Regions from separate parts of the Homo sapiens genome. Here regions 2, 3 and 4 are each linked to region 1. Evidence: fine-mapped expression QTL. A gene starts in region 1. Each other region holds a variant in brackets. All regions are shown on one strand. Distances are between the middles of the regions.

Region 1 (8,055 bases):
TTGAGGTGTGGGGGACTGGGGGAGGGATAGCATTAGGAGAAATACCTAATGTAAATGATGAGTTGATGGGTGCAGCAAACGAACATGGCACACATGTATACCTATGTAACAAACCTGCACGTTGTGCACATGTATCCTAGAACTTAAAGTATAATAAAAATAATAAGAAGAAATAAAAATAAATCTTGACCCCTACCTCACAACAATGATAAAAATATGTATATTCCAAATGGATTGTAGATGTAATGTAAACAATGAAATAAAAGATACCACAGAAAATTATCTTTGTGAAATAGGATCAGAAGCAAAAATTGATAAATTGAGTTTAATCAAAATTATGACTTTCTATTCACCAAAAGACAAAAAAGAATTAAAAACTAGCCATGAGGTTGAAAACTACTAAAAAAAGGAGTTATGTTCAGAATACAAGATTTGTTTAAGTAATAAGAAAAACAAGATAAGGAAATAAATAAAGTTCTATGGAAGCAAAAAGAAGAGAAAAAAGAAAAGAAAAACAACAGACTAGAGAAATAGGAGATTTGAGCAGCTATTGCACAAAATAAGGTATAAAAATTGCCAAAATAAAATAGAAAGGTACTCAACTTCATTTAAATATAAAATAATTTCAAAATGAGATTACAAAAGTCACCCAGTAAAATGGCTAACATGAAAATAACCTGACAAATGTAGAGATGATGTGGCCCAGCAGAAAGCCTTATGCACTACTAGGAATGTAAACAGGTAAAAACATCTTGGAAAATTGGTTGGTGTTAGCTACAAAAGACAAAGATACACACATATTCTGTGACCCACAAACACAACTCTTAGGCAAAAACCTGAGAGAAATCTGTGTACATGGGCATCAAAGAAATGTACAATATATTTATGATGGCATTATTTGAAATAGACATTGAGGCACAATGCAAATTCCTGAACAGTAGAATAAATAAGGTATAGTATATTTATGAAATAGTACTAGAAACAGAAATAAATAAACTACAACTACATATAACAACATGGATAATTTCATAAACAATGAGTGATAAATACAAATAACACACAAATGCACAGACAATACATGTTGTGCAAGTCCAATTAGATAACGTTCCCAAAACAGGCCCCGAACAAACAGTTATAAAAGGCAAATGTGCGGTTACACTGGAGGAAAAATAAGGGAAGTGATTTGGCAGGTGCATGCGAGGGGCTTCAGCGATGGAGGCAACGGAGCTTTTCACTTTCATACAATTTATGGAGCTTTATTATTTCAGCCTGTGCACATTTGTTTATATGTAATAGGTTAAATAATAGTAAAATGTTTTCTAAAATGTTGATTATTACCAAAAACAAAGAGGGTGAATATAGTGAAAATTTACTAGAAATTACAGTTCTGTTAATATGCATTGAATAATGCAGCATAAAATGAAGGAAGGCAATATATATTGCTCTGATGTCCTATAATTCCAAAAGACTTTAGTTAAAATGGATATGTAAAAAGAGGTAAAATTTTAACCCAGGGAAATTTGACTCTTAGAAATAAATTTACGAAGAAGTTGATAGAGAAAAACAATACGAAAATTAAACAAAAGGATGTTATACACTAACCTTTGCAAAGGATTCCTCAGTTGTCTGCAGCTGATCTTCTCTGTCCCTAGAGTCAGGTAAACTGGGGCTGAAGGCCATGAGGTCGGTCTTGGGTGGGCCCTCACCAGAGCACACCCTCGGCCTCCTCTGCTGCGAGTATGACCAGCTCCCCACCGCACTGGAGCACACCAGCGTGGGCTTGCCCGGAGCGCACGCGCCCTCGGTGGGCAGCGCAGAGCACCGCAGCGCGGTGTACAGCAGCAGCGTGAGCACCAAAAGGCTGGACACCGCGCAGATGGCAATGATCAGGTATACGTTGACATCCACCAGCGCAGCATCGGGACCCACAGCGCCCACCAACGCCCGTGAGGAGGCCTTTGGCGCCTGTCCACTCTCCACAAGTGACACCAGCACAGTGGCCGTGGCCGTCAGCGCGGGCTCGCCGTGGTCCTTCACCAGTACCAGTAGGCGGTGGCGCGGAGCGTCCGTTTCGTCCAGGGCACGCGTTGTGCTGATCTCGCCAGTGTACAGCCCCACGCGGAACGGGATGCGCGCGCCACCAGTCCCCGGCTGCAGCTCGTACGAAAGCCACGCGTTGTAGCCCGAGTCAGCATCCACCGCGCGCACCTTTGCCACCACGTGGCCCACACCCACCGACCATGGCACCAGCTCGCTCACTGCGCCACCAGTGCCACCCGCCCGAGGCGCTAGCAGTGCTGGCGCGTTGTCGTTTTCGTCCAGCACGAACACCTGCAGCGTCACGTTGCTGCCCAGAGGTGGCACGCCGGCATCGCGAGCGGTCACCTGAAACTGCAGCAGCTCTAGCTCCTCGTGGTCCAGCGGCTGCAGCGCGTACACCTTGCCGCTCTCCGCATGCACCGAAACGTAGCTCGACAGCGCGCGCTCCCCTACCCGCCGCTCTACCAGCGAGTAGGACACCAGCGCGTTCTCCTGCGCGTCCGCGTCCCACGCAGACACAGTGAAGATGTGGCAGCCCGGCGGGTTGTTCTCCTTCACGAACACTGTGTACTCGGGCTGCGCGAACGCCGGAGCGTTGTCGTTCACATCAGCCACCTCCACAGAAACACTGGCCGTGGCCCACAGCGAAGGCGAGCCCCCGTCTCGCGCGGTCACCACCAGCTCATAGGCTGACACGCTCTCGCGGTCCAGGGCACTGTCCAGCACCAACGAGTAGTAATTCTTGAAGGTGGACACCAGCTTGAAGGGGACGTGGGACGTCAAGGAGCAGGTGACCAGCCCATTGACACCCATGTCTTTGTCGGACACGCTGATCAGGGCGATGACTGTACCCAGTGGAGCGTCCTCTCTAATTGGAAGTGATAAAGACTTGAATTCCAAATCTGGGACATTATCGTTGTTGTCTTCTACTTCCACAATAACTCTACAATGGCCAGAAAGTGGGAGCTGTCCCTTATCAATGCCCTCTACAATAATTTCATAGGATTTGCTTTCTTCAAAGTCAATATATCCCTTTACAATAATTTGTCCAGTAATTGGATCTATGTGAAACTTGGATTTCACATTTGGCGAAATATCATTTGAGAATGAATAAACAATGTCCCCATTCAATCCTTCGTCTAAATCTGAGGCGTTAAGTTTAATTACCAATGTTCCATTAGGAACATTTTCTAGTAATCTCACCTTATAAATGGTTCTGTCAAAAGCTGGGGCATTGTCATTGGCATCCAGTACTGTGATGAGTAACTGAACGGTGCCAGTCAACTCGGGTTTGCCTCCATCAGTGGCTGTGAGCACTAAAAAAATCTCCGGAGCTTCTTCTCTGTCTAAAGATTTCCGTAATATAAGCCCAAGACCTTTTACCAGCTCGTCATCAGGTGGTTTTTCCAGAGAAAAGTATTCATTTGGGCTCAGTCTGTAAGTGAGCAGGGCGTTCTCCCCGATATCTGCATCCGAGGCGCCCTCTAGTGGAAACCGAGAGTCAAGCGGCCTGGATTCCGCGATGGACAGGTTCTTTTGTGTTGCTGGGAACACCGGCGGGTTATCGTTAATGTCCCTCACCTCCACGTCCACATGGAAAACCTGCAGCGGCCTGTCTACGATCACCTCCAGGTGGATGCTGCACTCCGCGCTCCGCCGGCACAGCTCCTCCCGGTCGATCCGAGAATTCACAAACAAAATGCCATTCTGCAGATTTACCTCCAGAAGGCCTCCGCGGCCCTTGGACGCCACCCGGAACAGGCGCGGCACCAGCTCCGCCAGCTCCAGTCCCAGGTCCTGCGCGATGCGGCCCACGAAGGTGCCGTGTTTGGCCTCCTCGGAGACCGAGTAGTGGAGCTGACCGTTCCCTGCCTCCCAGGCTGCGAGGAGAAGAAGTAAGAGCAGCAGACGCCGGGATTCCTGGCCGCTTCCCCAGGAAAACTCCATCTTTAGTGCACAGTATTTTGTTCTGATTAAATATCGTTTCTCAAAGTCAAGGGAAATCTTTTAATCGGTCAGTCAAGTGCAGCTGCATCCTCCATATTTCAGACTCCAAAGAGTGTATATGGTTCCTTCCAGTAAGAATAGAAGGAATTTTCCCTTCTTCCTCCTTCTCTCATGTATTTTGTGGTAAAGAGCGACATCATGTGGCTCCAAACCGTAAGTAGCAATTGTGGAAACCCCCACACACTCTACTGTAAACTACTTGGTTTTATTTATTATTTCAGTCGTTTCGGAGAATAGGAATACATTTTGTACTACTGTGGTACACATTGTACCACTGATTGATTGAGTGTGGTCCTTAGTTTCGCCATAGGGGCAACTTTTACTTCAGTAGAAATAATTTTTTCAACACAGGTTTTAAGTATTACAGAGACCTAACTATACACTTTGTAAACATGTAACTGTAAACTGTTGATTAGAAAAATTCATTACAGATTCCTGTGTTCCCAAGAATTCCAGGGTTTTTTTTTATTAATGATAACACCCTCTTCACCCTAGTATTTCTGGTGTTGTTGACTTGAGGGGACTGGTCTCTAGGGAACTTCTGGTGCCAAGAACAAGCTATTGACAGGGAAATTTGCAGATGTTTTATAAAAGGATCAAAGACCATCAGCATTTAATTAGATGTCTTCCTTGAGTCATGTCAGGGCTGAAAGTGCAAGGAAGCAGGAAGTTATAGCAAATAGCTTGCATGGAAAAGCATTCCAAATAATTTTATTCATTGGAACTCATTTGCTCCCATGAGAAACGCTGGTATTCTCATTTTGACTCTTACAGTTTATAAGTACTTGCTTGTTCTCCAGTATGTAATGTGCCTAAGCTTCTATTTTCTCCTATAGTGCTTATATATTTTAGCCAAACTGAATATTTCCTGCTTCCAATAGCTTTTTTTAATAAACAAGCATGTTCATTTTGTCCTGTCTATAAGTAATCCACATCATTTCTAAACTCTTCTAAAGCCAATTTACCCCATTTTATAACCACTTAAAACTTCCCTGACCCATGAAGAATGTCATGATCAAACCAATTGAACAGGTATTTTTTCTTCTTTTACAAACTGCAGCACCAGGGTGGAATCGCGTGGGCCATTTATTACATTAATTTATCTCTTATAAGCATTTGAGTATGTGTGTCCTTTTTTGGAATATATATTTTAAAGGGAATAGTTGTATCTTAATTGTTTAATAGCTCAGAGGGACTTACCTAATATTTCCTAAATATTTACCCTGCAGAAAATGTTTGCTTCCTTCCATTGCCTAATAAAATGCATTAATTTAAGGTGATCGCATATCTAGTTGGGAAAATGTGGTGTTTCAATAGCCTCTATGATTTTCTAAAGATACAAAAAAAGTCTCTAGACATTTCCCCAATTAAGATGTATTTCAAGTTCAATGTTGAAAACTTGGGTTTTAGCTTAATTTTTATTCTAATTCTTGGTAATCATGATCTTTGAATCATCCTGGGTATTAATGGGGAATGAAGACTTCCCAATAAATAAACCACAATACATTTTCTTACATAAAGAAATTTAATATATAAAGACATAATGGTAGCCATTTAAAAACTTTCCTTGCCTCCTATATCCATAAAGTTATTTTCATCCTGTTTGTCTAAACAAAAAATCAATCTAGTGAAAATAGCTTTACGCTCCCTCTCTATTGAAGAACTACACTCACACAAACACACACACACAAAAACCAAAACAACAACAAAAAACCCACCAAATTTCTGAATCAAACAGAAACCAGAGTACTTTCACTATGTGGGGACCCAAACTATATTTTTACAAAATGATCATTGACATCAAGCACATTGGAAAAAAGGAGGAAGAATTCCATTTTCACCCATTTCATTTGTAATATTTTCATTTACCAGGTATTTTAATGTACAGATGGGGAATGCAGCAGAATAGAAAACAATGTTTATTTGGTAGCTATTCAATATTTATTTGGCATAGCATCAGTACATCTGTGAAGTGAAAATTCCAAAGTCTTCAAAATGTCTTTGCCAAGAGTCTTGTTAGACAATAGTTTCAAGAGGCAAGCTGGATTTGAAGATTGAAGTTCCATATCTGGGAAGACAAGTACTTTGGCTGACTCTATTATATTCAAGAAGCTGATAACAGAACTAAATTTTTAAAATACTGACCTGAGATGGACACACTATGGCTACTACTTCATGGACAAGGGAGCAACAAAGGATAGTGCCAAAAAAGGAAATAAAGAAAATGGAAGTGAGGGGAAGGAGAGGAGTCAAGAAAAATATCTATTTTACGTGTTAGACCTCCCACACTGTCAATGAGTATTAACCAGGTTTCAGTTGGTTACTATTTCTCTCCAGTGGTAGGGAAACTTAAATGGGAGTCCAACTAATTGCTAGAGGAGATAACCAAATATGTAGGGGTAGTGATTAGAAAAAAGTCTACCTTCAATTTCATTTGGTTCTGGTTATTTGGAGTTTTCTACTTATTGCATGGCACACATTAATAGGCAGGATGCTATTCAGAGAAGTTAACCAGTAATAACATTATAACATTGGCTTATCAAACTTATTTCATATTAGCATCCTTAGTATGGTATGCAAAAGACACTAATGAATAAAAAGTTTTGCTAGTAGGGATAGTTTTAAAATTAGATACCATAATTATTTTCAAGATATTGTTCAGATTGAAAATTATTTTTAACAAGATTTAAAACATTCTTTTAAAATGAATATATAAATATACTATACAACTATTAAATTTTCACTTCATATTGATATTTTAGTTATTAGTAATAAATTTTAACATATAATACAGTAGTATTATTAAAGTAGTATTAAATAAAGTAGTGATAAACTAAAGATGAACAAAGATGCAATTCTAAATGCAATTGTTATTCTCGATTTTTTTCCCAACTGGGAAATCAAGAAACAATAAACGGTATTGCCAAATTAGAGCACAAGGCCTAAAATGAATCATATTCAAGTAAAAAATAAGGATTGAGACTCCAAACAAGTGAATAAGAGAATAAAAGAGGTTCCATAAAAGACAACAGGTGTAATGATCTAATTTTTGAAACTGAAGGTGGAAAAGCATAATCAATAGGGAGTTATAAGCATTAGGTGAACTCATAAAATGAGCAAGTAACATTTGTACTAACAGGTAGTAGGAAGTCCAAATGAAAAGTGGCAAAAGATATTGAAGAAGCATTGTATAGGGATAAGTATAAAACAAGTCGAAGTCAGATTCTCTAAATAATGCAATTCATCTAAGAAAAAATATTTGTCTTATACCCAGGCATTTAGCAATAAAATAATTCTACTACTGCACCTAATAACAAAACAAAATTACAAGTGTGGATATCATAACTTACTGCTGATTTGGTTCAAAAATTAGCAACAAAAATCTTACCGTTTTAACCACAAAACCACAAAACTGGAAAAGTCTAATTATGAATCACATAATTCATACTTAACTATTAATGTATTTCCAGAGGAGTGGAAACATTGAGGAATGAAAAACAAAGACATTTTGGAAAGAATAAATAAAAATTACTCACTTTGGCTGAGAGATCAACGTCCACATCCTGTTTCTCCTCTCTATCCCGGCTAATTGGACAAGGAGGAAGGCTAGGGCTAAAAGCCATGAGGTCGGTCTTGGGCAACCCCTCTCCAGAGCACACCCTCTGCTGCCTCTGCTGCGAGTATGACCAGCTCCCCACCGCGCTGGAGCACACCAGCGTGGGCTTGCCCGGCCCACAGTCGCCTTCGGTTGGCGGCGCGGAGCACCGCAGAGCAGTATATAGCAGCAGTGTGAGCACCAACAGACTGGACACCGCGCAGATGGCGACGATCAAGTACACGTTGACATCCACCAGTGCAGCTTCCGGGCCCGTGGCGCCAGCGGACGCCTGGGACGAGGCCTTGGGTGCCTGGCCACTCTCCACCAGCGACACCAGCACAGTGGCCGTGGCGGTCAATGAGGGTTCACCGTGGTCCTTCACCAGCACCAGTAGGCGATGGCGCGGGGCG
Region 2 (8,055 bases), 29 kb after region 1:
ACACAATGCAGCCAAGTTCTTTGCTAAGGCATAACAAGAGTGACCTTTGCTCCAGTTCCCAATAAATTCCTAATTTCCATCTGAGAACTCATCAGCTTGGCCTTTGCTATCCATAGTTCTATCAGCATTTTTGTCACAACCACTTAACAAGTCTCTAAGAAGTTCCAAACTTTCCCTCATCTTCCTGTCTTTTCTGAGACCTCCAGATTCTTCCAATCTCAGCCCGTTACCCAGCTCCAAAGCTGCTTCCACATCTTCAGATATCTTTATAGGAACACCCCAGTCTTTGGTACCAATTTTCTGTATTAGTTCATTTTGTGTTGCTATGAAGTAATATCTGAGACTGGGTAATCTATAAAGAAAGGAGGTTTATTTGCCTCATGGTCCTGCATGCTGTACAGGAAGCAGGGTGTTGGCATCTGCTTCTGGTGAAGGCCTCAGGAAGCTGCCAATCATGGCTGAACACGAAGGGAAAACCAGCATATCACATGATTAGAGAGAGAGCAAGAGGAAAAGGAAGGAGATACCACACTCTTTTAAGCAACTAGATCTTGTGTGAACTCACAGAGTGGGAGCTCACTCACTACCCCAAGAATAGCACCAAGTCATTCATGAGGGATGCACTCTTATGACCCAAACACCTCCTGATAGCCTCAACTCCAACATTAGGCATCACAATTCAACATGAGATTTGAAGAGGACAAATATCCAAACCATATCAGGTGATGTCAGAGGAGGTTTTAGTGGAGAGCCAAGACCTTTCACCATGTGATAACAAGGGCATCTCTACCTTAGTGTCTATGGAGAACACATGGTGGGGCCAAAACTTCCACCCCACCTAGAAGTATAGAGGACATGTCCATGCATTTGTCAATGTAGGCCTATGGGAAACTTGGGCTTTATCTTCAAGTGACAGTAATGAGGTAGTGCCAATGCTCTCTCTGACAGAACAGTGTCAGGAGAAACTAGCTAAAATAGAATAAGTAAGCTCTAGAGTCTCAAAACATGATATAAAAATGTTCAAGTTTCAATATGAAGAAATTACTCATTATTCCAATAACCAAGAAGATAAATTAAATTTAAAAAATAACATACCAATGCCAACAATGAGATGAAAGAGCTGTTAGAATTCTGTGATAAAAATTTTAAAGCAGTCACCATGAAAATGCTTCAATGAGCAATTGCAAATATGCTTGAAACGAATAAAAAAATAGAAACCCTCAGCAATGAAACAGAAAGTCTCAGCAAATAAATAGATGATGAAAAGAACCAAATGAAAATTTTGGAAAAAAGTACAATAACCAAAATAAAAACCCAAATAGAAGAATGGAGTGGTCAAAAAAGAGAATAAGGAAACTAAAAGAAAAATAGAAAATACTGAATCTGGGCAGGGCACAGTGGCTCACACCTGTAATCACAGCACTTTGGGAGGTGAAGGTGGGAGGATTGCTTAAGCCCAGGAGTTTGAGGTTATGGTGCAGTATGATCATGCCACTGCACTCCAGCCAGGGCAACAGAGCATGACCCCATCTCTAAAAACATAACAAATAAGTAAATAAATAAAAATTACGCAATTTGAAAAACAGCAACAAAATAGACTAAAAGAATAAAAAAGAACAGTACCTTGGGGACATGTGGGAACTTAACAAAAGCTCCAACATTCATGTCAGTGGAGTACTGAAAGAAAAGGCAAAGGAGACAAGGCTAAAAATAACTCAAAAAATGGCTAAAAAGTTCCCAAATTTGATAAACAATATAGAGAGGTGAGTGAACTCCAAAGACTCCACACCAAGGCATATAACAGGCAAACTTTTGAAAATAAATGAAAAAGAAAAAATCTTAGGCTAGGTGTAGAGGCTTGTGCCTGTAATTCCAACATTTTGGAAGGCCAAAGTGGGAGGATTTCTTGAGCCCAGGGGTTCAAGACCAACCTAGGCAACATAGTAAGACCTTGTCTCTACAAAAAATAAACAAAATTAGCTGGACATGGTGGCATGCACCTGTACTCTCAGTTACTTAGGAGGGTGAGGTGGGAGGATCACTTGAGCCTGAGAGATCAAGGCTGCAGTGAGCCAACACCATATCACTGCACTCTAGCCTGAGTGACAGAGCAAAACCCTGTCTCAAAAAAAAAAAAGAAAGAAAGAAAAGAAAAGAAAAAGAAAGAGAAAAAAAAACTGACTAAGTGAATCAAAAAAAGACCCAATTACATGCTGCCTATGAGTATCTCACTTGAAATATAAAAATACAGGGAGATTAAAATTAAAAATGTAAAAGCTATATCAACAAGCAAAATGTCTTGAGCATCCCCAAAACCTGTTGCCATGACCTTTGCTTTTTGTGTGTGTTGGGACCTTTGCTTTTGACCAGCCTGCTTTTACTTTGACTAGGCCATTTGCACCTCTTGGTAGCATTGCTTTGATTGTGCTTTGTCTTCAAGATCATACTGCTAAAGCCATGTGTCATCTCCTGTTACAGTTCTCCAAAGAAAGTATTCAGAATCTTGATCCCATTGTTTAAAATTTCCATGGAAACTCAGTTCTCATCTGCAGCTGATCTAGGTGCAATGGTTTTGGACCCATTGAGGAGAAATTTGCTCAACTTTAATTTTTTAGTCAGAAGTGATCAAAGGAAAGCAGAAGCATCTATCAAATAGAGTTCAAGACAAAGATAACTACCGGTATATAGAGGAAAATCAGGCCAGGAGCGGTGGCTCATGCATGTAATCCCAGCAACTTGGGAGGCCAAGGCGGGTGGATCATTTGTGGTCAGGAGTTCAAGACCAGCCCGGCCAACGTGATGAAATCCCCTCTCTACTAAAAATACAAAAATGAGCCTGGCGGTAGTGGTGCGCGCTTGTAATCCTAGCTACTTGGGAGGCTGAGGCAGGAAAATCACTTGATCCTGAGAGGTGGAGGTTGCAGTGAGCCGAGATCACACCACTGCACTCCAGTCCGGATGACAGAGTGAGACCCTGTCTCAAAAAAAAAGAGAGAGAGAGAGAGAGGAAAATTATAAATGATAAGGAGTCAATCCACCAAAAAGACATGGCAACCCTAAATGTGTATGCACCAAACAACAGAGCTGTGAAACAAAATCTCATAGAACTAAAAGGAGAAACAGATAAATCCACAATTATAATTGGAGACTTCAACAATTCTCTCTCAACAAATAACAGAACAACTAAAAAGAAAATCAGCAAGAATATAGAAGAACTCAGTAACATCACTAACCAATGGAAACTAATTGACATTTATAGAACACACTATTCAACAATCACGGGCTGAGCACAGTGGCTCACACCTGTAATCCCAGCACTTTGAGACACTGAGGCAAGCAGATCACTTGAGGTCAGGAGTTCGAGATCAGCCTGGCCAACATGGTGAAACCCTGTCTCTACTAAAAATACAAAAATTAGCCAGGTGTGGTGGTGCATGCCTGTAGTCCCAGCTGCTTGGGAGGCTGAGGCAGGAGAATCACTTGAGCCCGGGAGGTGGAGGTTGCAGTGAGCCAAGAGCCAAGATCATGCCACTGCACTCCAGCCTGGGCAACAGAGTGAGACTCTGTCTCAAAAAAAAAAAAGA[G/AAG]AGAGAGAGAGAGAGACTCCATCATCTCAAAAAAAAAAAATTTCAAAATACACTCTTCCAAGTGCCAGTGAAACATATCTCAAAACACATCTTGCCCTGAGTCATAAAACAAGCCTCAGTAAATGTAAAAGACATGAAATCATACAGAGTGTGTTCTGTGACCACAATGGAATCAAAGGAGAAATCAATAACATAAAGATAAAAGAAAAATATTCTAACACTTGGATGTTAACGTATCTCTAAATAATCCATGGGCCAAAGACGATGTCTCAAAGGAATAAAAAAAAATACATGGTATGAGGTAAAAAAAATTTAATTTAAAAAATAACACCAATACTAATCTCTCCCAGAAAATACAAGAGGTCTTCAAAAAGTTCATGAAAAATGCGTACTATGAAAAAATATGCATGAATTTAAATAAAGTTTGCATCATAATAAACTTGTATTAACTTGTTATAACATGTCTGAGCAGGATCTAGTTTAAGCCACAAAGAAGGATAGGACTTCCGTTTGAAAAGACTCCCGATTAGAGCAACATGAATTCACTAAAATTGAAGCAAGAACAAACATCAGATTTATGGTGAAGCTTGGGTGGAAGAATAATGAAATCATTGACACTTTATGAAAAGTTTATGAGGACAATGCCTCAAAGAAATAAGTAGTGTACAAATGAATAACTTGTTTTAAGAAGGGATAAGATGATGTTGGAGATAAAGCCTGTAGTGACAGGCTATCCATATCATTTTATAAGAAACAAATTAGTCCTGTTCATACCGTAATTGAACAGGGCCAATGATTAACAGCAGATACACTAGGAAATACCATAGACATCCCAGATGGTTCAGCTTACACAATTCTGACTAAAAAATTAAAGTTGAGCAAATTTCTGCTCAATGGGTGCCAAATTGCACCCAGATCAGCTGCAGATAAGAGCTGAGTTTCCATGGAAATTTTAAACAATGGGATCAAGATTCTGAATACTTTCTTTGGAGAATTGTAACGGGAGATGAAACATGGCTTTAGCAGTATGATCTTGAAGACAAAGCACAATCAAAGCAATGCTATCAAGAGGTGTAAATTGTCTAGTCAAAGTAAAAGCTGGCTGGTCAAAAGCAAAGGTCCCAACACACACAAAAAGCAAAGGTCATGACAACAGGTTTTGCAGATCTTAAAGGTATTTTGCTTGTTGACTTTCTGGAGGGCCAGAGAACGTTTTAAGAAAGCCAAGCTTTAGCAGAAAAATAACCAGGAAAGCTTTACTATAGAGTTCTTCTCCACCACAACAACGCTCATGTTCATTCCTCTCAACAAGGGCAATTTCACAAGAATTCTGACATGTAAAATCACTGGGCATCCACCATACAGTCCCAGTTTGGTTATTTCTTTTTTTTCTTTTTCTTTTTTTTCGAGACAGGGTCTCACTCTGTCGCCCAGGCTGGAGTGCAGTGGCACGATCTTGGCTCACCGCAACCTCCACCTCCCAGGTTCATGTGATTCTCCTGCTTCAGCCTCCTGAGTAGCTGGGATTACAGGTGTGTGCCATCTTGCCCAGGTAATTTTTATATTTTAATAGAGATGGGTTTTCACCACGTTGGCCAGGCTGGTCTCAAACTCCTGACCTCAAGTGATCCACCTGCCTCTGCTTCCCACAGTTCTGGGATTACAAGTGTGGGCCACCATGCCCTGCCCCAGTGTGATTATTTCTGACTTTTCTTTATTTCCCAATCTTAAAAAATCTTTAAAGAGCATCCATTTTCCTTCAGTTAATAATGTAAACAATTCTTCATTGACATGGTTAAATTCTTAGGACCATCAGCTCTTTAGAGACGGACTAAATGGCTGGTATCATCCCTTATAAAAATGTCTTGAGCTTGGCGGGACCAAGATGGCTAACTAGAAGCAGCAGCAGTTAGAGGCTCCAATTGAGAAGAAACAAAACAGCATGTCAATCCTGCACTGGCAATCGAGGTATCCAGGTTTTATCATCAGGACTGACTAGGCAGTTGGTGTGACCCATAAAGAGCAAGAAAAAGCAGGGTGCTGCGTCGGCCCACATGGAGAAAGGGCAAACCCCACCCCCAACCAAGGAAGGTGGTGAATGAGTATGCTATCTTGCCTGGGAAACCGTGCTTTTTCCACAGATCTGCGCAACCCACAGATCGGAAGATTCCACTCGTGAGCCCATACTACCAGGGCCTTGGGTCCCAACCACAGAGCTGCACAGACTCTCAACAGCCACTCTTGCTGGAATCTGCCTAAAGGTAATGAGTTCCCGGAGGAGAAGCCGCCATCATCACTGCAGCTGCCTGCTGTCTAAGCCATCTGAGCTTCCAGGGGGAGAGATGGCAGCCATCACTGCGGCTGTCAGCTGCCTAAGACAACTGAGCTCCCTGAGGTGGGGGCGGCCCTCATCACTGTGGTTGCTAGCTGCCTAAGAAAACTGAGCTCCCTGCGGGAGGGAAGGCAAACATTACTCCAGCTGCTAGCTAAGTACACTGCTACCTGACACTGAACTGGGGGTAGCGGGGAGGGTGGCAGCCATCACTATAGCTCTAGACCACATTTTTCCCCTCCTGGAGCCGGAGAGACAGGACAGCTTGGTTCCAAGAGGTAATCCCCACAGTGCAGTATACAGGCTGTGGCTGAAAAATGCTGAAAACTCAAAAGGCCAGAGTGCCTCTTCTCCAAATGATCACAACACTTCTCCAGCAAGTGCACAGAACTGGACAGAGGTACCATCCTGATACCAAAACCTGGCAGAGATACAACAAAAAAGGAAAACTTCAGGCCAGTATCCCTGATGAACACTGATGCAAAAATCCTCAATAAAATACTGTCAAACTGAATCCAGCAGCACATCAAAAAGTTTATCCACCATGATCAAGTCTGCTTCATCCCTGGGATGCAAGGCTGGTTCAACATACGCAAATTAATAAACATAATTCATCACATAAACGGAACTAATGACAAAAACCACAAGATTATCTCAAAAGATGCCGAAAAAGCCTTTGATAAAATTCAACATCCTTTCATGTTAAAAACAATCAATAAACTAGGTATTGATGGAACATATCTCAAAATAGTAAGAGCCATTTACGACAAACCCATAGCCAATATCATACAGAATGGGCAAAACCCAGAAGCACTTCCCTTGAAAAGCAGCACAAGACAAAGATGCCCTCTCTCACCACTCCTATTCAACATAGTATTGGAAGTTCTGGCCAGGGCAATCAGGCAAGAGAAAGAAATAACGGGTATTCAAATAGGAAAAGAGGAAGTCAAATTGCCTCTGTTTGCAGACAACATGATCCTATATCTAGAAAAACCCATTGTCTCAGCCCAAAAGCTCCTTAAGCTGATAAGCAACTTCAGCAAAGTCTCAGGACACAAAATCAATGTGCAAAAATCACAAGCATTCCTGTACACCAACAATAGACAAGCAGAGAGCCAAATCATGAATGAACTCCCATTCACAATTGCTACAAAGAGAATAAAATACCTAGGAATACAGCTAACAAAAGATGTGAAGGACCTCGTCAAGGAGAACTACAAACCACTGCTCAAGGAAATAAGATAGGACACAACAAATGGAAAAACATTCCATCCTCATGAATAGGAATAATCAATATCATGAAAATGGCCACACCGCCCAAAGTAATTTATAGAGTCAATGTTATTTCCATCAAACTACCATTGACATTCTTCACAGAATTAGAAAAAATGACTTTAAAATTCGTATGGAACAAAAAAAGAGCCCATATAGCCAAGACAATTCTAAGCAAAAAGAACAAAGCTGGAGGCATCACGCTACCTGACTTCAAACTATACTACAAGGCTACAGTAACCAAAACAGCATGGTACTGGTACCAAAACAGACACATAGACCAATGGAACAGAATAGAGATCTCAGAAATAAGACCACACATTTACAACCATCTGACCTTTAACAAACTTGACAAAAACAAGCAATTGGAAAAGAATTCCCTACTTAATTAATAGTGCTGGGAAAACTGGCTGGTCATATGCAGAAAATTGAAACTGGACCCCTTCCTTACACCTTATATAAAAATTAACTCAATATGGATTAAAGACTTAAATATAAAACCCAAAACCATAAAAACCCTAGAAGAAAATATAAGCAACACCATTCAGGACATAGGCATGAGCAAAGATTTTATGATGAAATCACCAAAAGCAATTGCAACAGAAGCAAAAATTGATAAATGAGGTCTAGTTAAACTAAATACCTTCTGCACAGCAAAAGAAACTATCATCAGAGTGAACAGGCAACCTATAAAATGGGAGAAAATTTTTGCAATCTACCCATCTGACAAAGGTCTAATATCCAGAATTTACAAGGAACTTAAACAAATTTACAAGGAAAAAATACAAACAACCCCATCAAAAAGTGGGCAAAGGACATGAACAGACACTTCTCAAAAGAAGACATTTATGCAGCCAACAAACATGT
Region 3 (8,055 bases), 36 kb before region 1:
ACTTGTCATATTGATGCTTTCTGTGTCTTCAACTTTCCTTATGTTTTCTCTTTCCAAGAAATGTCTATCATTCTCAATATTCTCCCGGGGGGAACTTACTTATTTTAAAACCACTGAAACACACCATGCCCCTTCAAGTATTTCTTCAAAAATTCAAATAGGAAATGATTGTCTTTCAACTTCAACGTCATTCTGATTTACCTCTTGTACCTGTTACATTATCTTGCCTTGCATTGTGTGACTCATATTCTTTATTTGACCTCAAATTTTAAAGCCAGGGGCTGGGGCTCAGTAATAATTCCTGACATGATGATATGCTGTTAGAGATCTGTAAGGGTCCTATTTAATGTTTAATGAAGACTGGTTATTACAATCTTCTCTACTTGCTAAGAAAGCATTTTAGGCTGGGCGCGGTGGCTCATGCCTGTAATCCCAGCACTTTAGGAGGCCGAAGTGGGCGGATCAGGAGGTCAGGAGATCGAGACCATCCTGGCTAACATGGTGAAACCCCGACTCTACTAAAAATACAAAAAATTAGCAGGGCATGGTGGCATGCACCTGTAATCCCAGCTACTTGGGAGGCTGAGGAAGGAGAATCATTTGAACCCGGGAGGCAGAGGTTGCAGTGAGCCGAGATTGCGCCACTGCATTCCAGCCTGGGAGATAGAGCGAGACTCCGTCTCAAAAAAAAAAAAAAAAAAAGAAAGAAAGAAAAGAAAAGAAAAAAGAGAAAGCACTTTAAAAGGCTATTTACAACACTCTACATAAATGGTTTACTTAATTCATAGAACTACAACATAAATTGACTTTAAATCATCATCAAAACATTATTGTATACTTCTTTTTAAGAAAAATACTATTAATGGAAAGATCTCATACATACAAAGAACTCAAACGCCTACTCAGGCCTCTGCAGGATCTCAGGCAACTTTTAAATATGGGAAACATACAACTATCAAAGTAAGATAGTCTACACATTCCTTGGAAGGACTTTAACCTTTCCAAAAAACTGTTTTCCCACATAGGTGGTGTTAACTTGACTTTCCTAAACTCGTAATAACTTTTAGATTTTTTTCATTCCACCACACAACATTCAAAATATTGAAACATCCTAGGTTAATCTAAAAAATGACTTTACAGAAGATAGTTTTACACAAAAATAAGATTAATATGGAAGGCCATAACGACTTTCTGACATTTTAGGTTGCCTTTCTGCAATCACTAACTTCTTTTCTCTTAAGAATGGTAATAACTAAATTTTATTATGTACCTATCACTTGCCAGAGTTTATTATTAATAATTTATAACTATTAACTTACTTGATACAAATAAATCTATAAAGTAGAATTCACATTTATCATGCATACATATAATGCCAAGGAACTGAATAACAAATCCTTTACCAATGGCTACACATACAAAAATTGGTAAAGGGAGGACTTGATTTAGAGAGCTTCAGAATCCACAATACTTAATAACTAACTTCTGACACATTTCAATCCCAGAAATTCTTAATAGCTAAAAGCATCACCATAATTAGAATAGTGAAAAGTATTAATGTACAAGAAATAGGTTTAGACTTTCTCACTGTGAAAGCACAACCCCAAATTCAAATATCAGAGAGTTGAAGAAAAACAGAACTAAAATGACTTAAATGATAAATTGCCAAATACAATGCTAGGTGGTGGAAAGAATCCTCCTATTTATGATATTTTGTAAAAGTCAATTAAATGTTTAGGAGAATTCAGTAATTAAAGTAATACCTGAGAACCAGGTAGACATAGACAGGATAGGAAATATTACTTTCACAAAGGAAAACACATATTATTCAAACAGGATAATAAAGATAATCATATTTTTTAAAAGGACTTAAATGAAAACAATCATATTTTTTAAAGGACTAAAATGAAAACAATTCGCTTTTACACAATGTGTTCAAATAGTCAAATAAAATGCTAAACATGGACAGGCATTAAGAGAACTGTAAAATAAACTACAAAACAATGCTGCTTTGAGGTTACCTTCAGTTGGACAAGGGGGCTAAAATATGCCCATAAATGATTACATTATTTGTTCATAAGTGATTAAAAGATTTAAAACAATACTAATAACAAACTGTAAGAATTCAGAGTCCCAGAAATCGTTCATTCCCTTCCATCAATTTCTACCATTCTCTCCAAAGCAATATGCACGAAGTCTAATGGGTATTTAATATCCAGGCAGGTCCAACAGTCACAAGAAGCAAACGTGTAAAAAGACAAGAAGAAATAAAAGAAAGAAAATGTTGAAAGATACCAAAATAAAGTATCTTGGATTTTTCAAAGATTTATCCCATAATACTAAATATTTTTACACGAACTAATGGGCCATGATAATCCCAAATATTCTGTATAATAAGGATTTATAAATTATATGTTTGGTTTGCAAGAATGAAATTATCATGTATAGTTTTTCTGATGAAAACATTTTTCTAAGTCATATATTAAATATCACTTTAATGTGGAATATTATTGAAAATATTCCAACTCATGAACAAAGGGTTGAATGATTAGAGTTTAGAAGATACTTGCAAGAATAAAGTAATCATTTCCTAAACATAGAGGCTCAAAAAATGTTAAGTTGGCGACAATACAACTGTAAAAATCATGTAGAATAAAAAACATGTCTCCAAATGGTAAAATGGTCTAAATAATGAATTAAAAGAAGGATTACAAATCTCTTCCCTCTTGATTTTACTTTTTAACTAGTTTATAATAAAATTAGGAAGAATATGAAAACTATCAAATTTTGAAAAACACTATCATTCTGTATTTTATCACTACACTGCTTAAAACGGCAATAGTGAAACACCAAAGATATTTGTGACTACCAGACACTAAAAAGTCAGATAAGATGAATAAACCGAGATCTTAAAGTGAATAAAAGTAAATATAAAGACAACATATTTAAAACATGCATTTCAAAGTACAGCATATGGAGTAAGATTAAGAGTTCAGTGCCTAAGGACAAAAGAATAAACGCTTTGGGGGAATACTTTCACCAAAGATCAAAATGCCCTGAACGTCCTTAGAGTATTGTTCAGAGAAGACGGCTGTAAGGCAGGCCAAAATAAATATTCAGTAAAAAATGGATATCATCCAACCATAACTTGAGTTTCAAGATAGACCCAACTTGTGGAGAATGATTAATACTGTATTATGCCACTGAGAAAATTCAATTAATTATAAAAGGTTTCTAAAAACTAAACAATGTTTAAATTTTCACTATAAAATACGGTGAAAAACTAAATCTGAAACACTTTTAAAGTAACTACAATTTCCACAAATAGAATTTATGAGTTCTAAATTTAAATGGACTTACTTTGAGGCCATGATCAACATTTAAATCTTGCTCTTCGCCTACATCAACTGATCCCAGATCAGGAGGAAGGCAGGGGCTGAAGGCCATGAGGTCCGTCTTCGGTGGCCCCTCACCAGAGCACACCCTCTGCGGCTGTTGTTGCGAGTATGACCAGCTCCCCACCGCACTGGAGCACACCAGAGTGGGCTTGCCCGCCCGGCACCCGCCCTCAGTGGGCAGTGCTGAGCACCGCAGCGCAGTGTACAGCAGCAGCGTGAGCACCAGCAGGCTGGATACCGCGCAGATGGCGATGATCAGGTACACGTTGACATCCACCAGCGCCGCTTCCGGACCCAAAACGCCAGCCGACTGCCTCGATGACGCTTTTGGAGCCTGGCCGCTCTCCACCAGCGACACCAGAACCGTGGCCGTGGCGGTCAGCGCAGGTTCACCATGATCCTTCACCAGGACCAGCAGACGGTGGCGCGGAGAGTCCGCTTCGTCCAGGACACGAGTGGTGCTGATCTCGCCCGTGTACAGCCCCACGCGGAACGGGATGCGAGGGCTGCTTGCAGCTGGCTGCAGCTCATACGAAAGCCACGCGTTGTAGCCCGAGTCGGCGTCCACTGCGCGCACCTTCGCTACCACGTGGCCCGCGCCCACAGACCGCGGCACCAGCTTGCTCGCTGCGCCACCAGTGCCACCCACCCGAGGCTCCAGCAGTGCCGGCGCGTTGTCATTCTCGTCCAGCACGAACACCTGCAGCGTCACGTTGCTGCCCAGAGGCGGCACGCCCGCGTCGCGCGCGCTCACCTGGAACTGCAGCAGCTCTAGCTCCTCGTGGTCCAGCGGCTGCAGCGCGTACACCTTGCCGCTCTCCGTGTGCACCGAAATGTAGCTCGACAGCGAGCGCTCGCCCACCCGCCGCTCCACAAGCGAGTAGGACACCAGCGCGTTCTCCTGCGCGTCCGCGTCTCGCGCAGACACCGTGAAGATGTGGCAGCCCGGCGGGTTGTTCTCCTTCACGAACACCGTGTACTCGGGCTGCGCGAACGCCGGAGCATTGTCGTTCACGTCGGCCACCTCCACAGACAAGCTGGCGGTGGCCCACAGCGAAGGCGAGCCCCCGTCCCGCGCGGTTACCACCAACTCATAGGCCGACAC[T/G]CTCTCGCGGTCCAGGGCGCTGTCCAGCACCAACGAGTAGTAATTCTTGAAGGTGGACACCAGCTTGAAGGGGACATGGGGCATCAGGGAGCAGGTCACCTGCCCGTTGGCACCTGAATCGAGGTCGTTCACGCTAATTAGGGCGATGACAGTACCAAATTGAGCGTCTTCACGTACAGGCAAGGATAAGGAAGTCAGTGCTATCTCAGGGACGTTATCATTTTTATCCAAAATTCTCACTAAAACGGTGCAATGACCCGCCATGGGAGGATGGCCTTTGTCCGTGGCGTCAATGAGGATTTTGTATAAGTTTTCTTGTTCAAAATCCAAATTACCCCGAATCACTATTTCTCCCGTATTTCGATCTATGCTAAAGTGGTCAATAACCATAGTTTCAACAAGGCTATTAAAAGAATATGAAATTGCCCCATTGGCTCCTTCATCCGGATCAGAAGCATTCAGTTTGATAACTGTTGTTCCGTTGTCTGCGTTTTCGAATATTCTTACTTCGTATTCAGACTGTTCGAAAGTGGGAGCATTATCATTCACATCCAGCACTGTGACCAGCAGCTGAACAGTGCCTGTGAGCTCAGGTTTGCCCCCATCTGTGGCTGTCAGGAATAAGTGGTGCGCAGGAGCGTCCTCTCTGTCCAAGGATTTTCTTAATACGAGCTCAACCAGTTTATTCTCATCGTTCTTTGAATTCACATCTAGCATGAAGTAATCATGAGAGCTAAGCCTGTAGGTTAACACGGAGTTAGCTCCAACATCTGCATCGGACGCGCCCTCTAGCGGAAACCGAGAGTCTGGCATTCTGGATTCTGAAACAAACAGCTTTTGGTCTTTTACCCGGAACACTGGCGGGTTGTCATTAACATCCTTCACCTCCACGTCCACATGGAAAACCTGCAGCGGCCTGTCCACGATCACCTCCAGGTGGATGCTGCACTCCGCGCTCCGCCCGCACAGCTCCTCGCGGTCGATCCGAGAATTCACAAACAAAATGCCATTCTGCAGACTTACCTCCAGAAGGTCCCGGTGTCTTTTGGACGCCACCCGGAACAGGCGCGGCACCAGCTCCGCCAGCTCCAGCCCCAGGTCCTGCGCGATCCGGCCCACGAAGGTGCCGTGTTTGGCCTCCTCGGGGACGGAGTAGTGGAGCTGGCCGCTCCCCACCTTCCAGGCTGCGAGGAGCAGAAGCAAGAGTAGTAGTCGCCAGGATCCCAGCTCTCCTCGCCAGTGATAATCCATGTTAAATAGTCGTTTCCTATCAGAAAATATTATCTTAATATAAAGATGAACGACTGTACTTTCAGAGTCTTTTAATCCAATTCCGCTGCATCTCCCGTTGTTCGGCCTTTAGAGACAGATGCTGTCAGAGAAAAGACTTTGAACATTGACCAACCAGAACTTCTTGGTAGACAGCGACATCATGTGGCTTCAAAAGGTAATGATTACATGAATTACTTCCGCAATATCTGGGTTCTTCTATGCACTTTCTATTTCTTTATCATAATTTAATAGTAAATCCTTAACTTTATCAATTGCAGAGGCATTCATACTGTCTGGCTCCTTACATTAGTTTCAGCTAGGGATTTCTTCTTCATAAGGAAAGGAATTTCTTCCCAATATTTCAAATATCGTATCAATTAATAATAAATTTAAGTATGACCTGTATGTCATGGATATCAGAAATGTAAACTGTCCTCCATAGTTTCGTGTGGAAGAAATGCATTAATATTTATTTGGTCACCAGAAACACTGGTATATATTACTCTGAGGTGAGCATATAATTCTAACTTTTCTACATTTTATCTTCTTGTGTTCTTATTGTTAAATTTTTGCTTTTCTTTATTCAATAAATGTCAAATTGCCTGAACCGTTTTATTTACTAAAGTAATAAAAATGTATGTGCATATTCTTTACACTATTTCTCTATATCTCTATAGCTTGTTAAATTCAGCCTCTCACTTAAAACATTTTCCTTTATGATTTCTCTGACATGCCAAACTCTAGCAGTATTGCCATCATTGGCTTGTTAGTTCTTCATCTTTCTTCTGCTCCAAAAAGTGAGTATTTACCAGAATTATGCCTTTAAACTTTTTTCCCCAACTTTTTATTTAACGTTTCTATTTCCACGGCTTTAAACTAGCCTATTATTTGAAGTATTCTTAACTCCATATCTGCAACCCCCTATTTTCATTTTCTACCTGACATTTTTACCTGTATACCCTAACATTGCCTAGAAAATGAGTCGACCAAAGTTAAAAGAATATCTAATCAATAATCACCCAAAACCCAAATCATTAAAAAATCACAATTTTTATAGCATAGTGATTCTCCACATTTACTCATATGTATTTTTATGACTTCTTTTCCTTTGCCTACCATATTTAAAATTTGTATACATCCCATCTCTCCTTTCACGTGTGATAATTTCTGTCCTTATTAGTACAGCTTTCACTCGATTTCACTAAAATCTTCAACAAGTTTATCTTTCTATTGACTAATTGTCAAGACATTAGACTTCCATCTGGGAGATACGCTACGTGACCATGAGCCAATCTTCTCAGTGCTAAGGCTAACCACTTTCCAATAGGAGTCATATTTTACAGAAAATATGTTGTCTCCTTCTTGGCACACTCTTTGTTCAAGGTTTTTCTTCTATTACTTCATCTTTTTCTGTCAAAATTCTATTCATCTTTCAAAGTCCACCTCAAAAGTAAATTCTCCATGGATTCATCATGAATGCCTTCATAGTAGGCAATTAAGAGCTCCTCCAAATTTCTACAAAATTCTTACCAAAAACGTAGGTTAAATAGGAAAGGCAAATAAGGGTATTTTCTGTGAAATGATTTAAATTTGTCATCACATTATTTACCCAAAAAAATCTCTGTAGTTGACTCTAAATAGTAGCAAACAATTTGTAAAGAAAATAGTATTTCTCGATATCTCAGGAGTTTGAGACCAGCCTGGGCAACATGGTAAGACCCCATCTCTACAAAAAATACAAAAATTAGTTGGGCATGGTGGTGTGTGCCTATAGTCCCAGCAACTTGAGAGGCTGAGGTAGGAAGATCACTTGAGCCCAGGAGGCAGAGATTGCAGTAAGCCCAGATTGTGCCACTGCACTGCAGTCTGGGCTACAGAGTGAGACCCTGTCTCAAAAATAATAATCATCATCATCATCATAATAATTGATGAATACAGCTTAGGTGGCTAAGGAGGATCCCCTATCAACTTCAGGTATTTCCCAATATAAATAGGATATTTAAAACTTTAATAATATGCTAGGAAGGTTTTAAATATACATGCATGTAAGCATAAAAGCAAAGCAATAAAAACAGATTACAGTTACATCTTTGAAGGTCAAAGATATTTATAGATTTTTCCACAAAACTGAATATCTTTCAACAAGAGCAGCAAACTTGGTCTGCTTATGTGAATGACATATTATGGCTTAATGGTAAATAATTCTATTGATTATCAGACAGGTTTTTGACTTTGCATACCTCTATCCTTATTCACGTTGAAAAGAAAACAGTAACATAT
Region 4 (8,055 bases), 220 kb before region 1:
ATAAGCAGAGGGAAAACATCATGAGGAATGAGCAAGCATATTTGGATGAAGAGCACATAAAACTACAAATACAAAAATGTAATAAATAAAAGTTTAAAATTCAGTTAGTAGGTTTAAGAACAAATCAGACATGAATGAAAAAGAATAATAGACTAGAAGACAGGCAGACTGTAGGAAAGACAGAAAAAAGATAGAGATTATAAAAAGAGTTTAAAAGACATAGAAAATGGAGTGAAATGATAAACATAGGTATAATTGCAGTCTCTGAAGGATAAAAGAGGAGTAGAAGCAACATTTAAAGAGATAATTAATTAGAATTTTTCATAATACCAAATCACAAATTCAGAAACCAAATGAATCTCATATAAGATAAAAACAAATAATCACATACATATAGCATAGTATAATTGCAGGACAGTGAAAATGAGAAAGATTATCTTAAAATAGATATAGAAGAGAGATTTCTTAAAGTGGTGACAGACTTCAGCACCATAGGAAAGGTAAATTTTTTTAAAAAATTTAAAAAATAGGATGGACGCTGTGGCTCATGCCTGTAATCCCAACATTTTGGGAGGCCAAGGTGGGTGGATCGCTTGAGGTCACGAGTTCAAGACCAGCCTGGCCAACATGGTGAAACCCTGTCTCTACCAAAAATACAAAGATTAGCCAGGTGTGGTGGCCAGTGCCTGTAATCCCAGCTACTTGGAAGGCTAAGGCAGGAGAATCGTTTGAGCCTGGGAGGTGAAGGTTGCAGTGAGCAGAGAGATTGCACCACTGAACTCCAGCCTGGGTGACAGAGTGAGACTTTGTCTCAAAAATAAATAAATAAATAAATAGTAAATAAAGTAGTGACAGACTGAGAATGAACTCAGCAGCAAAAGAGGAACGTGAAGACAATGGAATGATATTGTCAATGTTCTGATATAAAATAAAGTTAATCTAGAATTCAAAGCCTAGCATAAACATGGAGAAACCCCGTCTCTACTAAAAATACAAAATTAGCCGGCCGTGGTGGTGCATGCCTGTAATTCCAGTTATTTGGGAGGCTGAGGCAGGAAAATCGCCTGAACCCGGGAGGCGGAGATTCCCGTGGGCGGAGATTGCCGTGAGCCGAGATCGCGCCATCGCACTCCAGCCGGGGCAATAAGAGCCAAACTCCATCTCAAAAAAAACCTCAAAAGCAAATATGAAATAAAGACATTTTCAGACCCCAAAAAACGAGTTTGCCACCAACAGACCATACACTAAAGCAATTCTAAAAATTACACTTCAGGCAGTATCTCCTTTTTAAGGCTGAATAATATCCCATGGCATATATTTGTATCACCATTTCTTTGTTTGTTCATCAGCCAATGGACAATTGAGTTGTTTCCATACTTTGGCTCTGTGAGTAATGCTGCAATGAACATGGGAGTGCAGATATCTCTATGAGGTTATGATTTTATTTTCTTTAGGTATACATCCAGGAGAAGAATTGCTGGGTCATATGGTAGTTCTATTTTTAATTTTTTGAGGAATATCCATACCATTTTCTTTAATGGCTATACCAATTTATATTCCCACCAGCAGTGTACAAGTGTCCCTTTTTCTCTAAATTCTTACCAACACTTGCTATCTCTTGTCTATTTGATAATAGCCATCCTAAGAAGGAGACACTGCCATTTACAACAACATGGATGAAACTATGGGATATTATACTAAGTGAAATAAGCCAGACACAGAAGGAGAAATACTGCATGATCTCACTTATATGGAGAATCTAGAAAAAAATCAAATACAGGCCGGGCACGGTGGCTCACACCTCTAATCCCAGCACTTTGGGAGGCCAAGGCGGGCGGATCATCTGAGGTGGGGAGTTCAAGACCAGCCTGGCCAACATAGTGAAACCCCCTCTCTACTAAAAAACTACAAAAATTAGCCAGGCATGGTTGCGGGCGCCTATAATCTCAGCTACTTGGGAGGCTGAGGCAGGAGAATTACTTGAACCTGGGAAGCTGAGGTTGCAGTGAGCTGAGATCACGCCACTGCACTCCAGCCTGGGCGACAGAGTGAGACTCTGTCTTAAATAAATAAATAAATGAAACATAAATAAAAAAGAAAATGCCATCATGATTATGTAGGAGAATGTCGTATTCTTAGGAAGTGTATGCTGCTTTATTTAGCAGTGATGTGTCATGTCTAAAACATACTTTGAAATGATACACCAAAAATTACACAGAGAGGAAGGAAGAGAGTGAAGGACAGAAAGGGAGACAGGGAAGGAAAGGTTAAGGGAGAGAGAAAGAGAGAAGTAAATGTGGCCAATGTTAAATGGTGAATCTTGATGAAAGGAGTATAGAGGTTTATTTTACTATTCTGTTGACTTTTCTATAGGTTTGAACTTTTTAAAATAAATAAAATTGAGCATTGCAATGATCTTTTCAGGCCAAGTACTAATTTCTAAAATGAAGAATAGTGGTTTCAAATGAAGTCATTTGAACCTACAGCCAAGTAGCTATGAGTACTAATTGTTTAAATATAATTATCTTAAAACTTGGGCCGGTTGCAGTGGCTCACCCCTGTAATCCCAGCAATTTAGGAGGCTCAGGCAGGTGGATCACTTGAGGCCAGGAGTTCAAGACCAGCTTGGCCAACATGGTGAAACCTCATCTCTACTAAAAATACGAAAATAAGCCGGACATGGTGGCGTGCACCCGTAATCCCAGCTACCTGGGAGGCTGAGGCATAAGAATCACTTGAACCCGAGAGGTAGAAGTTGCAGTAAGCCAAGATCACACCACTGCACTCCAGCCTGGGCAACAGAGCAAGACTCTGTCTCAAAAATATAATATAATATAATATAATATAATATAATATAATATAATATAACATAATATAATATAATATAATGTAATAATTTTTAAACTATAAAACAGAAATTAGAGGAGAAATTGGAGATAGTCAGTATAGGGAACACTTTCAAGGAATTTTTTGTATAAAGAAGAGAGAAATGTGCAGTAGCTGGAAGGAAAAACGAGGTCAATAAATAGTTACTTTAAGATGTGAGAAATAACAACATGCTTGTATGGTGATGGGAAAGATCCAGTAGGAAAGAGAAAATTGATAATACAGTGGTGGTAGAAAGCAATGTCCTTGAGTACATGACACAGGGAGTTCATCTAGTAGTCACAGAACATAACATACAGTACAAGAGAACAAAGGCAGGTCAGTAGGTCAATGAGATAAGACTTATGGGCAGCTCCTCTGATCACTTCATTTATCAAATTTATTTGAAGTTAGATGCTCTACTGATGGAGGAGTGGGAGGAGTGCTGAAAGTTGGAAAGACATCAGAATGTAGGAATTGGTCAAGGTAGGATGGATGCAGACGAGAGAGTAAATGGGCTAGGAAAATACTATATAATTGCCAGACAACGTTAAGGGCCACTTGAGATTTGTAATCACAAATATAAAATAAGAACAGCTAGCAATATTGTGATGTTTTTCTCCTGCTACATTAACATATGTGAATACAAGCCTGATGTGGGCAAAGTTTTAGGTTTACAAGTCTTTGAATTTATAAATCTAGTTTTTGATTTATGAAGCTTCGGATTTTTATAAGCAAGTATATTAAAGTGAGGGAGGATCATGGATTTTAAGGTATATAAAATGCAGTGATTATAATGATTGACCCCAGACTTTTCACTGGATAAAAAGAATTAGGACATGAAGGTGGTAGGGATGA[C/T]GAAAAGATGGTAGGACTAATAGATTTTATGTATTGGAATGGTTGGCATTATTTTCGGGTCTTAGAGGGAGTAAGCTGGGAAAATTGTAGGGGGCAATTAGAAAGTTTGATGCTTGAAATTGATACTTAGAAATTAGGAAAGTGTTGCAGTCACTGATAACATAAAGATATTTGACCTTAGATGGGAGTAGGTAGCTGAGGTCAGTAGAGCACTGGGTAATTCAAGGAGAGAAGGTCAAGGAATGGAGAAGGTAGGCTGTTAGAAGAAACATCTATGTGGATATTGAAATCACCAAGTATTATGTTTAGAATAGTACTAGAGAAGATATTGAGCCAGCAGGTAAAATCATCAAGAAATGACAGTGAGTGACATGGGATCAGGAGATGACTGCTACAAGGAGAGGTAGTGGGTGTTAAAATTTGACCGCATGAGATTCTAAGCTGAATGTTGTTAGGCAGAAGGGAGATAGGGAGATCTGGAAGTGGCAAGGTGGGGGGCAAGGTAGGGTGATACAGAAGTGGCAAGTGGTAGGATGATCTGGAAGGAGCAGGGAAGATAATTTCTTACTTCTAGGCCCAGTGGGATTAAAGGCTAAGGAAAAATCACAGCTACATTTTGAGAAGAATAATGGAAATAATCTCCTTAGGGAGAACCAGTGTTCGGTTTAAACAAAGACAGCAAATTTTCAGAAAAGAGGCTGCAAACATAGGGAATTTTGCTAATGACTGACCACAGGGCATAATACAAAGGCTTCAGGAGTTAAGGAAAGATAGAAATAGCGTAAAAAAAATCTACAGAACAACATGGGATTTACTCTCTGAGTGAAAGGAGATGGTCGGGGAGTTCTGAACTTTTGGAAACTGGCATAAACCACGACCTTAATGTTGATGGTCACATAGTGATGGTAAGGCTATAAGTTGGGGGTGAAGGATTTGGATCGTGTCACAAATATACTGAATTCTGGGGCTCTCGCTTAGCTAAAACTGATGTTTTCCTTTAAGCCCAGGGCCACATAGAGACTGTGTTTGACCTGTGCCAATGCAGATATGGAGACCAGAGACAAGGGCATTTGCTGTCTGGTGTGTTTCTTTCCATCTGTCCTGGATATTATCCATAAATGGAGGAATCAAGTTTCTGGCTTTGTACGCTTTTTGAAAACAAATCCATTCCTGAAGCCCTTGCTTCTCAGATGATCAGAATATTGGGATGATAGTTGTGCTGCTGATGCTGCTAGCTCTCACATGGGGCAGTGGCCTGAGAAAACCAAAGGGCGATAAGCATGACTAAAATTTAGCTCTGAGCTGAAGAATATTCATGTTTTCCTGTGGCTAGGATGGGTACTCTTGAAATATGGAAAGTTCAGTTAGAACCTCCCAAATGAATTTTTTTTTTAAGTTTAAAAATTCGCTACTTTTTATCACCAAGATCAGAAACACAATGGCCTAATCAGTAACTGTGGACATTTTGAAACAGCCTAATATTTAAGAGGAAATTAAAAGTAAGCCTTGCTACTATCAATGTTAAAAATCACAAATAGACACACACATATTGAGTCACTGTAATAATTCTCTGGTCCTAGTTCACTGAGTCTCTGCAGATTCAATTTGGCATCAAATAACAGCCCATTCTTCTCTGCCACATTGGTCATTTGGAACTGATGAGGAGACAGATAGCACTTTAGCTGCACAGAAGAAGAAAGAAGTGCTCTAAGGTGACATTTTGTTTTGAAAGAAGTCTGGAGATGTAAGTTTGTCTACCTGTTTTTATAAACAACACTTACCAAAATTGGAGACTTTCACCATAATATCTTTTCTTAAACCAACTTAATTTATTAAGGGTTAAGATACTTGAATTTGCCTTTGGTTATGTCCGTAACACCTAAAACTCATCAAATTATTCTTACCTACAATTTCCTCATCTATGCAAGTGAAAAATAAAACTGCCTGAAAGCATTAAAAGGGACTTCCGAGTCATTGCTGATTCGAAACCAGGGCGCTTCAACTTTAACCTTCAAGATAAGCATGTTCACATCTTCAATTCCAGGCGTTGGCTAACATGCAAGACAAGCAAACTGCTCTCAGAAGAGACCTCACTTATGCAAAGAAGGCAGCCAGAGGCAGATGCCAAATTCAAAGTGGGACCTTGTAAGTAATGATTACAAAATGGATTAGGTTCCTAGAAGGACATGATATATGGACCTAGAGGGATGAACAAGCTTTTGTTAAATAACATGCTAAGATGATGACAGGAATTTAGTTCACCTTGATACCAATTCACCTAAAGTCAATTCTCCTGATGCCAATTTACCCTAATTAATCATCTAAAATTATCATTTTCTAGAGCAGTGGTTCTCAATCCTAGCTATGCATCGAGTGATTCTAACCTGGGGAGTTTTTCAAAACAATGCCCAGGCCACAACCCCAGAGATTCTGATTTATTTGGCTTGTAGTAGAGCCCAGGCATTGTCAGATAAAGTGTAAAACATCAGTTAGATGTAAATTTTAGAGAAAACAAATAATATTTTCATATAAGTATGTCCCAAATATTGTATAGGAGATATTGCATGAGACATACTTAAACTAAAAAGTTATTTGCTATTTATTTGAAATTTAAATTTAACTGGACATCTTATGTTTTCGTTTGTTAAATCTGGCAACTGTATCTGTAATTCTAGGTTTAGCCAGGACTAATAACCACTGCTCTAGTGTATATAGGTCTTATAAACTGGACTGGGTTTATTTAATGTTTTCCAAATAATTTTTCTTTTTTTTGAGACAGGGTCTTACTCTCTCACTCAGGCTGGAGTGCAGTGGCGCGATCTTGGCTTACTGCAACCTCTGCCTCCCAGGTTCACACGATTCTTGTGCCTCAGCCTCCCGAGTAGCTGGGATTACAGGTGCAGGCCACCACGCCCAGCTAATTTATGTATTTTCAGTAGAGAGGGTTTTTCCCATGTTTCCCAGGCTGGTCCTGAACTCCTGGCCTCAATTGATCCACCCGCCTTGGCCTCTCAAAGTGCTGGGATTATAGGCATGAGCCACCGCACACAGGAAATTTTGTTTTTTGTTTCTTTAAAGTATACTTTTCCCATTTCTAGGCAGTTGAATTCATTTTTAGACTGTTAGTTTCTAAAGGACTGTCAAACGTGTTTTATTTTTATATTTCTAATAAAGATTTCTAATATAAACATAATATATTAGATAGGTATGTAATAAATATTTATAATATATAATATATTTTGATTTATCTTATTTAACCCTTTTGAGCATTTACTTCTTTTTGGCCATTTGCTGTTATTTTATATTTCTTTGTGCTTTTTCTTATTAATTTGTAGGAATTACTTATATGTATAGAAATTAGTCCTCTTCTATGATATAAATAACAATATATTTTGTCTTTTGACTTAGTTCATGGTGATTTTTTAATGCAATTTTTAAAATTATATATGCAAAATAAATATTTTCTCTTCTATAACTTCTTAGTATTCTGTTATTCTTATAAAATCTTTCCCCACTTTGAGATTTTTTTTTTCGGTAAATTAACCTTTTTTTAAATTTATTTTTTATTATTATTATACTTTAAGTTTTAGGGTACATGTGCACAATGTGCAGGTTAGTTACATATGTATACATGTGCCATGCTGGTGTGCTGCACCCATTAACTCGTCATTTAGCATTAGGTATATCTCCTAATGCTATCCCTCCCCCGTCCCCCCACCCCAGAACAGTTCCCAGAGTGTGATGTTCCCCTTCTTGTGTCCATGTGTTCTCATTGTTCAATTCCCACCTATGAGTGAGAACGTGCGGTGTTTGTTTTTTTGTCCTTGCGATAGTTTACTGAGAATGATGATTTCCAATTTCATCCATGTCCCTACAAAGGACATGAACTCATCATTTTTTATGGCTGCATAGTATTCCATGGTGTATATGTGCCACATTTTAAAATTCACCCATTTTGTTGCAGAGGCTATAACTCCAATATTCTGCCCTCTTTAGATACAGAATGCTTATTTCTAATGGGTCACATCCTTGCATCAGGTTGTGACCATGTGAGCATGTAATTTTTGTTGTCTTCTTTTGGCCAGTGAGAAATAAACAGAAATGTGGGGTGGGAATTCTGGGAAACCTTAAAAGACTTCCTTCTCTTGTTCCTGCTCCTGAAACGGCTGGATCTAGCAGCCATATTGAACTATGAGAGACCTTGCCAATGTTCCAGGCTAAGGGGGCAGAATAGAAGATATGATCCTAGATCCTTAATGTCACAGTAAAGCTACCTCCACAGCCCTGACTCCCTACGTCCAGGCTTCTTTTTATGAGAGGAATATAATTGCT

Direction of the effects. Alleles are on the strand shown, and positions count from the first base shown. SD is a standard deviation of normalised expression in the study named. Not every link is listed here.
With allele AAG in place of G in region 2, the expression in iPS cells of the gene that starts at base 4,107 in region 1 is higher (large effect, 0.81 SD a copy in PhLiPS).
As copies of G replace T in region 3, the expression in iPS cells of the gene that starts at base 4,107 in region 1 goes up (large effect, 0.80 SD a copy in iPSCORE).

The links. PIP is the estimated chance that this variant, and not a neighbour inherited with it, causes the effect. A credible set is the group of variants that fine-mapping cannot tell apart.
Region 2: its variant is the best candidate, but not a certain one, in a credible set for the expression of PCDHA4 in iPS cells (PhLiPS, PIP 0.67).
Region 3: its variant is the best candidate, but not a certain one, in a credible set for the expression of PCDHA4 in iPS cells (iPSCORE, PIP 0.55).
Region 4: its variant is the best candidate, but not a certain one, in a credible set for the expression of PCDHA4 in lung (TOPMed, PIP 0.57).

Annotation. Positions count from the first base shown.
Region 1 is chr5:140,803,120-140,811,174 of GRCh38, reverse strand. It overlaps PCDHA4 (protocadherin alpha 4), which reads right to left and starts at 4,107. Exons shown (of 4, transcript NM_018907.4): 1 at 1,603-4,107. The coding sequence starts at 3,987. The region is part of intron 1 of PCDHA1 (protocadherin alpha 1); the gene reads right to left. The region is part of intron 1 of PCDHA2 (protocadherin alpha 2); the gene reads right to left. It overlaps PCDHA3 (protocadherin alpha 3), which reads right to left. Exons shown (of 4, transcript NM_018906.3): 1 at 7,584-8,055. It also overlaps PCDHA@.
Region 2 is chr5:140,774,183-140,782,237 of GRCh38, reverse strand. No RefSeq gene overlaps it. Among named protein-coding and RNA genes, the nearest start is that of PCDHA1, 7.9 kb to the left of the region's middle. The variant G/AAG (reference allele first, on the strand shown) is at 3,585.
Region 3 is chr5:140,839,021-140,847,075 of GRCh38, reverse strand. All of the region lies in intron 1 of PCDHA1 (protocadherin alpha 1), which reads right to left. All of the region lies in intron 1 of PCDHA2 (protocadherin alpha 2), which reads right to left. All of the region lies in intron 1 of PCDHA3 (protocadherin alpha 3), which reads right to left. The region is part of intron 1 of PCDHA4 (protocadherin alpha 4); the gene reads right to left. It also overlaps PCDHA5, PCDHA6, PCDHA7, PCDHA8 and PCDHA@. The variant T/G (reference allele first, on the strand shown) is at 4,504.
Region 4 is chr5:141,024,257-141,032,311 of GRCh38, reverse strand. It overlaps LOC124901090 (a long non-coding RNA gene), which reads left to right and starts at 5,768. Exons shown (of 2, transcript XR_007058970.1): 1 at 5,768-5,868. The variant C/T (reference allele first, on the strand shown) is at 3,724.